Regions from separate parts of the Homo sapiens genome. Here region 1 is linked to region 2. Evidence: fine-mapped expression QTL. A gene starts in region 2. The other region holds a variant in brackets. All regions are shown on one strand. Distances are from middle to middle. Region 1 holds the start of LOC124904713 (a long non-coding RNA gene). Region 2 holds the start of FBXO17 (F-box protein 17).

What was found. PIP is the estimated chance that this variant, and not a neighbour inherited with it, causes the effect.
Region 1: its variant is the best candidate, but not a certain one, in a credible set for the expression of FBXO17 in esophagus muscle (GTEx, PIP 0.63).

Annotation. Positions count from the first base shown.
Region 1 is chr19:38,937,592-38,942,956 of GRCh38, forward strand. It overlaps FBXO17 (F-box protein 17), which reads right to left. Exons shown (of 6, transcript NM_024907.7): 6 at 3,810-5,160. The coding sequence ends at 5,017. LOC124904713 (a long non-coding RNA gene) reads right to left here and starts at 3,807. Exons shown (of 2, transcript XR_007067253.1): 1 at 3,623-3,807. The variant G/A (reference allele first, on the strand shown) is at 2,309.
Region 2 is chr19:38,973,524-38,978,898 of GRCh38, forward strand. It overlaps FBXO17 (F-box protein 17), which reads right to left and starts at 2,219. Exons shown (of 6, transcript NM_024907.7): 1 at 2,063-2,219. RefSeq lists enhancers at 4,166-4,215, 4,666-4,765.

The sequences.
Region 1 (5,365 bases), 36 kb before region 2:
TACCATTACTAGACCCATCTGTAAAAACATTTTCAGCACCTTCAATTGGTTTAAATTTAGTTATTTTAGGGAGAATCCAATTAGTTAATTTCAAAAATTAAAACAGTTTTGTTTAGGAAAATGGTTATCGAGAATACCCACAAAGTCAGCTTAATTGGTTTGCCAAGTAAGACTATTTATAAAAGCTTGCTGTATTTGTGCCTTTGTGAGAGGGATAATAATTTTTCCAGGATCATATCCATGTAATTTAACAATCCGAGTTCTCCCATTTCCTATCATAGTAGCAATTTGATCCAAATAAGGAGTTAGAGTCCGTGAATTAGTATGTGGAAGAAAAAGCCACTCTACAAGATCTCACTCTTGAACAATAACACCAGTAGGTGAATGCTGAGTTGGAAAAATTAGCAAATCTAGAGTCTTCTCTGGATCTAATCTATTTATTTGAGCTTTATGGACTTGCTTTTCGATTAGCCGCAGCTCTGCCTCAGCTTCTCTTGTTAATTACCGAGGGCTTGTGAGACCAGGATCTCCTCTAAGGATAGAAAATAGATTACTCATGGCATAGGTAGGAATGCCTAGAGCAGGTCGTATCCAATTAATGTCCCCTAGTAATTTTTGAAAGTCCTTTAATGTTTTCAATTGATTCCTATGTATGGTTGCTTTCTGTGGCACAATGGTAGTGTCATTTACTAAGGTCCCCAAGTAGGAGTAAGGAGTAGTAGTCTGAATTTTGTCAGGAGCTATAATTAAACCAGCGCAAGAAATCGAATTTTGTAAGTGATCATAACATTGGAGTAATACTTCTCGAGTGGGGGCAGCACAAAGTATATCATCCATATAATGAATAATGTAACACTGTGAAAACTTTTAACGAGTAGGTTCAATTGCTTGCCCTACATAAGTCTGGCAAATTGTTGGGCTGTTTAACATGCCTTGTGGCAATACTTTCCAGTGAAAACGCTTAGCAGGCTGCAGGTTGTTTACTGCAGGAATTGTAAATGCAAACTGTTCACAGTCTTGCTCAGCTAAGGGGATAGTAAAGAAACAGTCTTTTAAATCTATGACTATTAAAGGCCAATTTTTTGGAATCATAGCAGGAGAAGGCAATCCTGGCTGTAATGTACCCATGGGTTGTATAACTGAATTAATGGCTCTTAAGTCAGTTAACATTCTCCGTTTATCTGATTCTTTTCTTAATTACGAAAACTGGAGAATTCCAAGGGGAAAATGTTGGAGCTATGTGTCCGTTTTCTAATTATTCAGTAACTAATTCCTCTAAAGCCTTCAGTTTCTCTTTACTTAGCGGCCATTGTTCTATCCAAATTGGCTTATCTGTTAACCATTTTAAAGGTATAGGTTCTGGAGGCTTAACAATGGCCGCCATCAAAAATAATATCCTAAACCTTGGCGGAAACTTGTATTTCTGCTTGAAGCGGTTCCTTCAAACCTTGTAAATTTTTTCCTAGTCCCATACTAGGGACATACCCCATTTCATGCATCATATGTTGACTTTGAGGGCTATATAATTGTTCTGGAATTAGAACTTGTGCTCCGCATTGTTGTAATAAATATCTTCCCCATAAATTTATAGGTACAGAAGTTTTGGTTGAATAGTCCCAGGTTGTCCATCAGGCCCTTCACAATGCAAAATATAACTACTTTGATATACTTCAGGGGCTTTACCAACTCCAACTATGTTAAACTGAGCAGGTTGAATTGGCCATGTGGACGGCCATTGCTATAGAGAAATGAAATGTCCGCTCCTGTATCTACCAAACCTTTATATTTCTTTCCCTGAATAGTTATTTCACAGGTAGGACGTTTATCAGTAATTTGATTCACCCAATAAGCTGTTTTGCCTTGTTTATTTGTGCTTCCAAATCCTCCTGTTCGTTTAATTTCACTTTTTCCCATTCCCACATATGGCACATTCAGGAGCTGTGCTATGCGCTCTCCTGGCTCTGCTTTCCAGGGAACAGAAGTAGAAAAAACAATTTGAATTTCTCCATTGTAATCTGAATCAGTGACTCCTGTTTGTACTTGTACCCCCTTTAAATTTAAACTACACCTCCCTAGAAGTAATCCTATTGTCCCCACTGGCAAGGGTCCACAGACCCCTGTTGGAACTTTTTGCGGGGGTTCCTCAGGCAGAAGGCTCACAGCTTTTGTGCAGCATAAATCTACTGTGGCATTACTGGCTGTGGCAGGGGACAGACATTGTACAGGGGTGAAGGAGTGGCCTGAGGCGGAAATGCCCCTGGTTTCGAACAGGGCCCGGGATGGGCCCCTCATGGCATTTCCCGAAATC[G/A]GGTTCCCATCTTTATCAAACTTAGAGTGACACTGATTAGCCCAATGTTTTCCTTTTTTTACATTTTGGACATATATCAGGCTCAGCAGTTTTCTTTTTTCCCCTGTCTGCCGGCCTGACTTGCTGATTTTTTTCTGCATTCTTTTTTAGTGTGCCCATGCTTCCCACAGTTGAAACAAGCTCCAGGAAATGGAGTATTTCCTTTATCCACTTTCAGTCCTGCCATTGCCTGTGCCAACAAAGTAGCTTTATGCAGATTACCTCTGATACCATCTCAGGCCTTGATATAATCAACTAAATGTGCTTTCCCTCTAATAGGTCACAGAGCAGCCTGGCAATTGAGATTAGCATTGTCAAAAGCTAATAACCGCAACACTATATCCTGAGCAGCCGAATCTGCAATCACCTTTTTAAGATACTCCTGTAACCGAGCTATAAAATCTGTGTACGGTTCTTTTGGTCCCTGTTTTACAGCACCAAAGGAAGGGTACTGTTCTCCACCTGAAGTGATTTTTTCCCAAGCTCTGATGCACACTCCTCTAAGCTGCTCTATGGCATCATCCTGCATGACCACCTGTGCATCTAAACCAGCCCAGCCGCCGACCCCCAAAAGTTGGTGTGCAGTTATATCAATTTGAGGTTGGGCCTGGGTGTTGCGAGGAGCCTGAATGGAAGCTTCATCTGCCCACCAAGTTTTAAATTGTAAGAACTGAGCAGGAGTTAGACAAGCTCAAGTAAGAGCGTCCCAGTCAGGAGGAATCATCCGACTGGAAACAGCAACATTCTTTAACAGTCCCGTTACAAAAGGAGAACCTGGTCCATATTGATTAATAGCTTGTTTAAATTCTTTGAGTAATTTAAAAGGAAAAGGCTCAAATGTAGCTGTAATATTTCCCTGTTGATCTGGGGGATGTATTCTAACAGGGAACTGCCAAGCCTCTAAATCACCCTCTCTTCTAGCTTGCTGAATTCCTGCCTGAATGGAACTGAGAGCAGTCGCTTGAGGCACTGCCCAAACAGTCACTGGGGCAACTACTTTTCACCCAGTGTCCTCTGGAAAAGAAAGATCTGGAGGGTCAGGTCACTCTTTTTCTTCACACTAAGGAGGGGATGCAGAAGGGTAGGGATGAACCTCTTCCTCCTTTGCCACTTTAGCTTTAGCTGGCAAACAAACCTGCTCTGTTACCTCTTCCATTACTTCATTACACTCTCCCTGCTCCTCATCAGTGTGAAAAGGTTCCAAGGTGGAATGAACCAGAACCCACACCTGTCCCATTGCTACCCTGATGCTTCCGAGCTCCCCTTCTTACTCACCATGGGGATTGCTTAAGAGTACTCGGGTGTCCTCCAGCTTAGTTCCACGTTCTCCAACCGTCGCTCCAGTGACTCTTCGACCTGGGTTCGAGCCCCCACGTATGGGTGCCACTTGCCGAGACCAGCTCGGTTGTGGAGACCCTAACCCAGCGGTGCTAGAGGAATTAAAGACACATACACAGAAATATAGGGTGTGGAGTGGGAAATCAGGGGTCTCACGGCCTTCAGAGCTGAGAGCCTTGAACAGAGATTTACCCACATATTTATTGACAGCAAGCCAGTGATAAGCATTATTTCTATAGATTATAGATTAACTAAAAACATTTCTTACAGGAAATAAAGGGATGGGCTGAAATAAAGGGATGGGTCTGGCTAGTTATCTGCAGCAGGAACATGTCGTTAAGGCACAGATCACTTATGCTATGGTTTGTGGTTCAGGAACCCCTTTAAGCGGTTTTCCGCCCTGGGTGGGCCAGGTGTTCCTCGCCCTCGTTCCAGTAAACCCACAACCTTCAGGGTGGGGGTCATGGCCATCACAAACATGTCACAGTGCTGCAGATATTTTGTTTATGGCCAGTTTTGGGGCCAGTTTATGGCCAGATTTGGGGGCCTGTTCCCAACACCAGAGATTTCCCCAAACAGCAGATGACTTTGTTAGTCTCAAGGACAGACTGCCTCAGCGGACCTCTGCTCCCTGCCCACGATCATTACCCCCAAAACATGCCGGCAAGTCTCTGCTCCCTGCGTCGGCAGAGGGATTTATAAGCCCTCTCTTATAAATCCTGGTTTAGCCTTTGTTTTGTGACTGAGTCCACCGAGATCCTTGCAGGAGAAGAAAATTTGCAGGCAAATGAACTAAATGTCTCTTCCTGACACTCCCCTTCTGGGGGGCTGAGGAAGCTGTGAACAGCCTGGTTTGTCACACAGCATGATGGCCACCACACTGAAGCAGCAGCAAGCAGATTCATGGAAGGTGTGCTGAGAACCAGCCACCTGGGAGCCCTACTGTCCCTGGGTATCCTCTGGCTTCTGGCTGCAAAGCTGGTCTTTTTTTTTTTTTTTTTCATTGATATAGGGTCTTGCTTTCTCACCCAGGCTGGAGTGGTGGTGAAATCACGGCTCACTGCAGCCTCAACCTCCTGGTCTCAGGCAATCCTCCCACCCAAGCCTCCTGAGTAGCTGGGACTACAGGCGGCACCACCATGCCTGGCTAATTTTTTAAAAATTATTTGTGGAGACGGTTTCACTATGTTGCCCAGGCTGGTCTTGAACTCCCGAGCTCCAGTGATCCTCCCACCTCGGCCTCCTGAAGTGCTGGGATTCCACAGGTGTGAGCCACTGCACCTGGCTGCAAGGCTGGTCTTGACTGACAACGTCAGGCAGTAGTCCAGTCGCTAGGACAGACGGATCCTGACCCTCACACTGGAGTGGGTCACAAGGGCGCCATAGTGCCCCACCCAGGAACTCACGTCTCTCCCGTACTGCTCAAAAGATACGTAGCGGATGCCCTTGCCAAAGTTGGTGAAGACGTGGGAGACCTGCAGGGGGAAGGGGAGTGAGAGGGTGAGGGCCTGCGGGCCCCTTCTCTTCCTCCACTTCAACAGATAGGCCCAAAGGACTGAGGAGGTGCCAGTCCTGCGCTAGTTTGCTGGGGACGGAGCAGTGAATAAAACCGGAAAAGGACCCCGCCCTGGTGTCAGTGCCATTCTAGCAGGGGGCCCAGACACTGGAGATAGGTGGGGG
Region 2 (5,375 bases):
TAAAACACTTCGTTTTCCATTCTTCTAAAAGAGATTACATACTTTTATTATAGAAAAAATTAAGGCAAACTTTTCTATTTGATTTCTAAGCCATATGTAGAATTTGATTAGAATTGAAGAAATTAATATTTACATAAATACAAAAATGTTATTTTAAAAATATATCTTTTTGTTTGGGCGCCGGTGGCTCACACCTGTAATCCCAGGACTTTTGATGGCCAAGACGAGCAGATGGCTTGAGCCCAGGAGTTCGAGACCAGCCTGGGTAACACGGCAAAACCCCGTATCCACAAAAAATAAAAAAATTAGTGGGGTTTGGTGGGGGGGCGTGCACCTGTAGCCCTAGTTACTCAGGAGGCTGAGGTGGGAGGATCTCTTGAGCCCAGGAGGTTGAGGCTGCAGTGAGCCATGATTACGACACTGTACTCCAGCCTGGGCAACACAGTTTTGATTTGATTTGATTTGATTTGAGACAGGGTCTCAAATATATATGTGTATATATATATATACATATATATATATACACATATATATACACACATATATATATGTACATATATAGTTTTTTTTTTTTTGAGACAGAGTCTTGCTCTTGTCACCCAGGCTGGAGTGCAATGGCACAATCTTGGCTCACTGCAACCTCCACCTCCAGGGTTCAAGCGATTCTCCTTCCTCAGCCTCCTGAGTAGCTGGGATTACAGGCGCCTACCACCACGCCTGGCTAATTTTTGTACTTTTAGTAGAGACGGGGTTCATGTTGGCCAGGCTGGTCTTGAATTCCTGACCTCAGGTGATCCGCCCGCCTCGGCCTCCCAGAGTGCTGGGATTACAAGCGTGAGCCACCGCGCACGCCCGGCCTAAAAATATATTTTTTAAAAAGAAGCTCCTTAGCCAAGCCTTACAAAAAGAGAGTCAACAGATACTAGGTATATTTAATGGAACAATAAATACAAGTTAAAAAAATTATTTTATGTTAGAAAAGTAGCCAATAGAGAAGCCGAAAGTAATGTCCTGACTATACAGGGAGGTGATTATATAGGGAGGAGGAAAACCACGGAGATGATCAAAGTTGTCTCCTATTTTTAGCAAGGGATCCATGGACGCGTTGTCTAAAAGTTGATGAAATAAGAAATAACAATCCAAAAATATGCTGTAAAGATTTGGAAATAGATACCAGAGGAATAAAAAGTGGAAAAAGTTAAAAACGAGGCACCAGCGATCACGAGTTACTTCTTGCCATTTTTGAAAAGTAATGTAGTTAACAAAAAAATGTATTTGGCCGACAGGGGTTGGGGGCGGTGGTGAGGGAGAGGTTGTTGTTTAAAGGCGTGTTGTTTTCCATGCAAAGCTCTGTCCTGTCCTACGTGTCTGAGTGTCGTGTATTACTGGAACATTTTTAAAGAAGTATTATTTATTTTACAACTAGACTCCCATAATATTTGTCTTTCAAAATATGGAGTAAATAGACGCTGTCTAAAGTTGAAGAGGCAGTATACAGAGCTTTCGAACATATCACTGAACATTGCAAAAGTAACTTGGCAGAACAAAATTTAAATTGAGGGTTGGGGCCGCAGCGAAACACATAATGTGCCCAAGTTGCTAAATCGAGAAACCGCCCTCCAAGGCTTCTGATTCACAGATTCTGCGAAGGGACTGACGGCCAGAAGACAGAAAATCCAGCAACGGTAAAAAGCGGCCTGGCCTTCCCCGGGCTGTTGCGCCCACGTGTTGGTTTGCAGCGTTTGGCAGGGGTTTTGGATGGTGGCCTCCGCGGACGAGCGCAGGGATGGAGAGGCCTGGGCGTTCGAACACCCACGTTCAAAGCAAAGCCCTTCCAGATTTAGGGCTTTCTAACGTGCATTTGTATAACTTTGGGTTTAAAGGAGCCTCAGGCCGAGGGAGGGCCCGGGAAAGCGACGCTGCGGGTTATGGGACTCCCAGGGACCCGCCCCTCCGGGCAGGGCCTGGCGCGGGAATCCTTCCCGGGGCGCCCCAGCTGTGGGCGAGAACGGGACTGACGCTTGGGTCCCGACCTGGGTCCCCTACCTGTCCCGGCGCTCACCTGGCGGGCTGCTCGGAGGCGGCAGCGGCGGGCTAAGCTTCCCTTTCCCACTTTGTTCTGGGAGGCAGTCGAGGGGCTCCCCGTGATCGGCGTGGCCCAGGGGGCCCCGGGACCGGCGGTCTGGGCGGTCGGTCCTCTCCCGGGGCGTGGCGGCTGCAGCCCGGCGCCGGGGGCGGCGACTCTGAGATCCAGCGGGCGGGGGCGGGAGGCCGCCCCTCCTCCGGCTGCGGGGCCCAGCGGGAGCGAGGGCGGGCGGGCGGGGGAGCTTGGAGGGCTGCGTGCAGCGAGGGGGAGGCCCAGTTGCCGCGAGGCCAGCGGGGAGCGGGGCCAGCCCCGCGCCCCTAGGATCCGGGGCCCACCCCTGGGAGAGCCACCTCCTCTGGGTGTGCGAGTTCCACATCCCCAAGACGCCCCCGCGGGGGGACTGGTCCTAGCTCCCCACCCCCACCCAAATTCCGTTTCCTTCTGGTCCTGGCCTCCTGCTTGCGGCCGTCTCCACCCCTCACATCCATGGGATCCTGCACAGGTCCACGGTTGGTAAACCGCTTAGCTGTGAGCCCGACCCAGGGCCTGATTCGAAACACTTGGATCAAAGTCCCTGGCCACAGGGATTTTCTTGTATTTACGTTGCTTCCCAGGGCCAGATTCTCAGAAGCCCGGGGCTGATCTTAAATTAAATCCCTTCACCACACGCACTCTCTGTGGCAATGACAAACCTGTACCCTTCCACCTTAGGACTCCCCTGTCCTCCCCATCCCCCCAGCTATAGACAACTGAATTAATCCGGAGGTTCAGTTTCGGTCAGGCTGGGGCCGCGACCCATTTTCTCCCTTTACCTCTGCCCTTGGGTCTTTGCAGTCCCTTCTGATGGCCCTAGATTGCACCAGGGACCTCAAGGTGACTGATCTCAGACACCCCAGAGCTAGTTTTCTGGAAGCCAGGCCTCCCCCACGCTGGTAAATCATTCTCCAGGCCCACTGGCTCATATCTGCCACTGTGCTAAATGCTTTGTATGCATGACCTCCTCATGGACGCCTCTCCCGAGAAACTGAAGTCCAGAGATACCTGGTCTGTTGCACGTAGTCCAAGTCGCTAGCTTGGAGGGGTCACACAGCCAGAGAGCCTGGATTCCCTAAAGCCCCTTCCCCTAGAAACCTCAGCCAGGCCCCACAGCGCCATCGTGAGGACGGCGTGAGACTGCGTGTGCAGCGCGGAGCACAGTGCTGGACTCAGAGCCAACGCTAATTTGACTACTATTACATTATTTGTAACAACCGCCTTTGAAAGCATTTTCTGCTGTGGGTTGTAAAATTACTGTATTATTGGTAGAGTTTTTAGCACAGATCCACACGCAGTTCCTTATGTGAAAGGCGTAGGCCTAGGTTTGTTTTGCATTCCGGATTTTGGGGGGTTTATTTATTTTATTTTAGTTTTTTGAGACGGAGTCTCGCTCTGTTGCCCAGGCTGGAGTGCAGTGGCTAGATCTTGGCTCACTGCAAGCTCCACCTCCCGGGCTCAAGCAATTCTTGTGCCTCAGCCTCCCGAGTAGCTGGGATTACAGGAACGCGCCACCACGCCTGGCTAATTTTTGTATTTTTAGTAGAGAGGGGGTTTGGCCATGTTGGCCAGGCTGGTCTCGAACTCTTGACCTCAGGTGATCTGCCTGTCTTGGCCTCCCAAAGTACTGGGATTACAAGCGTGAGCTACCACGCCTGGCCGTAAGTAGCCATTTCTTCATGCTGCTCAATTCTCTGACATCCAGGGGCTTGCATATGTAGGGACAAGAATACTAACTAATCTTTGTTCTTTGATAAAACATTAAACAGTTGTTCCTCTAAGTCTTCCTCGAAACCAGATTTCCCTAATCATTTCAACATTCCTTCCAAAAGCCATCGCTTAAAGCCTTCCCAAATCTAATGTCAGATGTTTGCGATTGTTGTAAATACCTTAACAAATAGACAAAGCAATTGTGTGTTATTATAATGATTACAAAGCTAATGCATACTTGTGCTGACACGTGTCACCAGTGTGCTGATACCCATGGACTTGAGCTTGTTTCTTTATTGTTATTATTACAAAAAGTGGAATTGTTTATTTTTCATTTATTGATTTATTTTTGAGTCAGCGTCTGGCTCTGTTACCCAGGCTGGAGTGCAGTGGCATGATCACAGCTCACTGCAGCCTTGATCTCCTGGGCTCAAGTGATCCTCCCACCTCAGCCCCTCAAGTAGCTGGGACTACAGGGGCACGCCACCATGCCCGGCTAATCTTTGTATTTTTTGTAGAGATGAGGTTTCGCCATGCTGCCCAGGCTGGTCTCGAACTCATTAGCTCAACAATCCGCCTGCCTTGGCCTCCCAAAATGCTGGGATTACAGGCATAAGCCACTGCATCTGGCCTTGTTTCTTTATTATTGGTATTCTAGTTTTTAGACTCCTTTCCTGCAGGGAGTGTGATTTGACTCACCCAATATAAGGAGCCCTGGTAACCGCCTCAGACCTGCTGAGGTTTCGGCTTTAGGTCAGAGCCAGTTTCAGGAAGGCTGATGATTCAGGACCGGTGGAGAGGCCTGGGGAACCTCTAGCAGGGCAGCCCACTGAATGCGGTTGTCACTCAGAGCCTGTCCATGTGCTTGGATCTGAACAGGAAGAGAGGTTTTATTTATGGTCTTGGTCGTGCTTTCCCTCGGAGTCACATTTGTTCCTGGTGTCTCCTCACATGGTGCAGGCTGATGTGCCTACTTTGCAGCTCTTTCTGCTGAGCAAGGCCTGTTTCTACCCAATTAAATCTAAAGCCTTCTATCACAATAAAACCTCAACTGTCATTCCCATCAACCAAGAAGAACTGAACTAGGAGGCCCTGACATTTGCCAATCTGATGTGTTATCAAATGTTTACATTGGCCGGGCACGGTGGCTCATGTCTGTAATCCTAGTGCTTTGGGAGGCAGCAGGATCACTTGAGACCAGGAGTTCAAGACCAGCCTGTGCAACATAGTGAGACCCCCATCTCTACAAAAAATTTAAAAATTACCTGGCTATGATGGTGTGTGACTGTGGTTCTAGCTACTTGGGGGGCTGAGGCAGGAGGACCGCCTGAGCCTGGGAGGTTAAGGCTGCAGTGAGCTGTAATGGTGCCACTGTACTCCAGCCTGAGTGACAGAGCAAGACTCTATCTCAAGACAAATAAACAGGCCGGGCGCGGTGGCTCACGCCTGTAATCCCAACACTTTGGGAGGCCAAGGCAGGCGGATCACCTGAGGTCAGGAGTTTGAGACCAGCCTGGCCAACATGGCAAAACCCCGTCTCTACTAA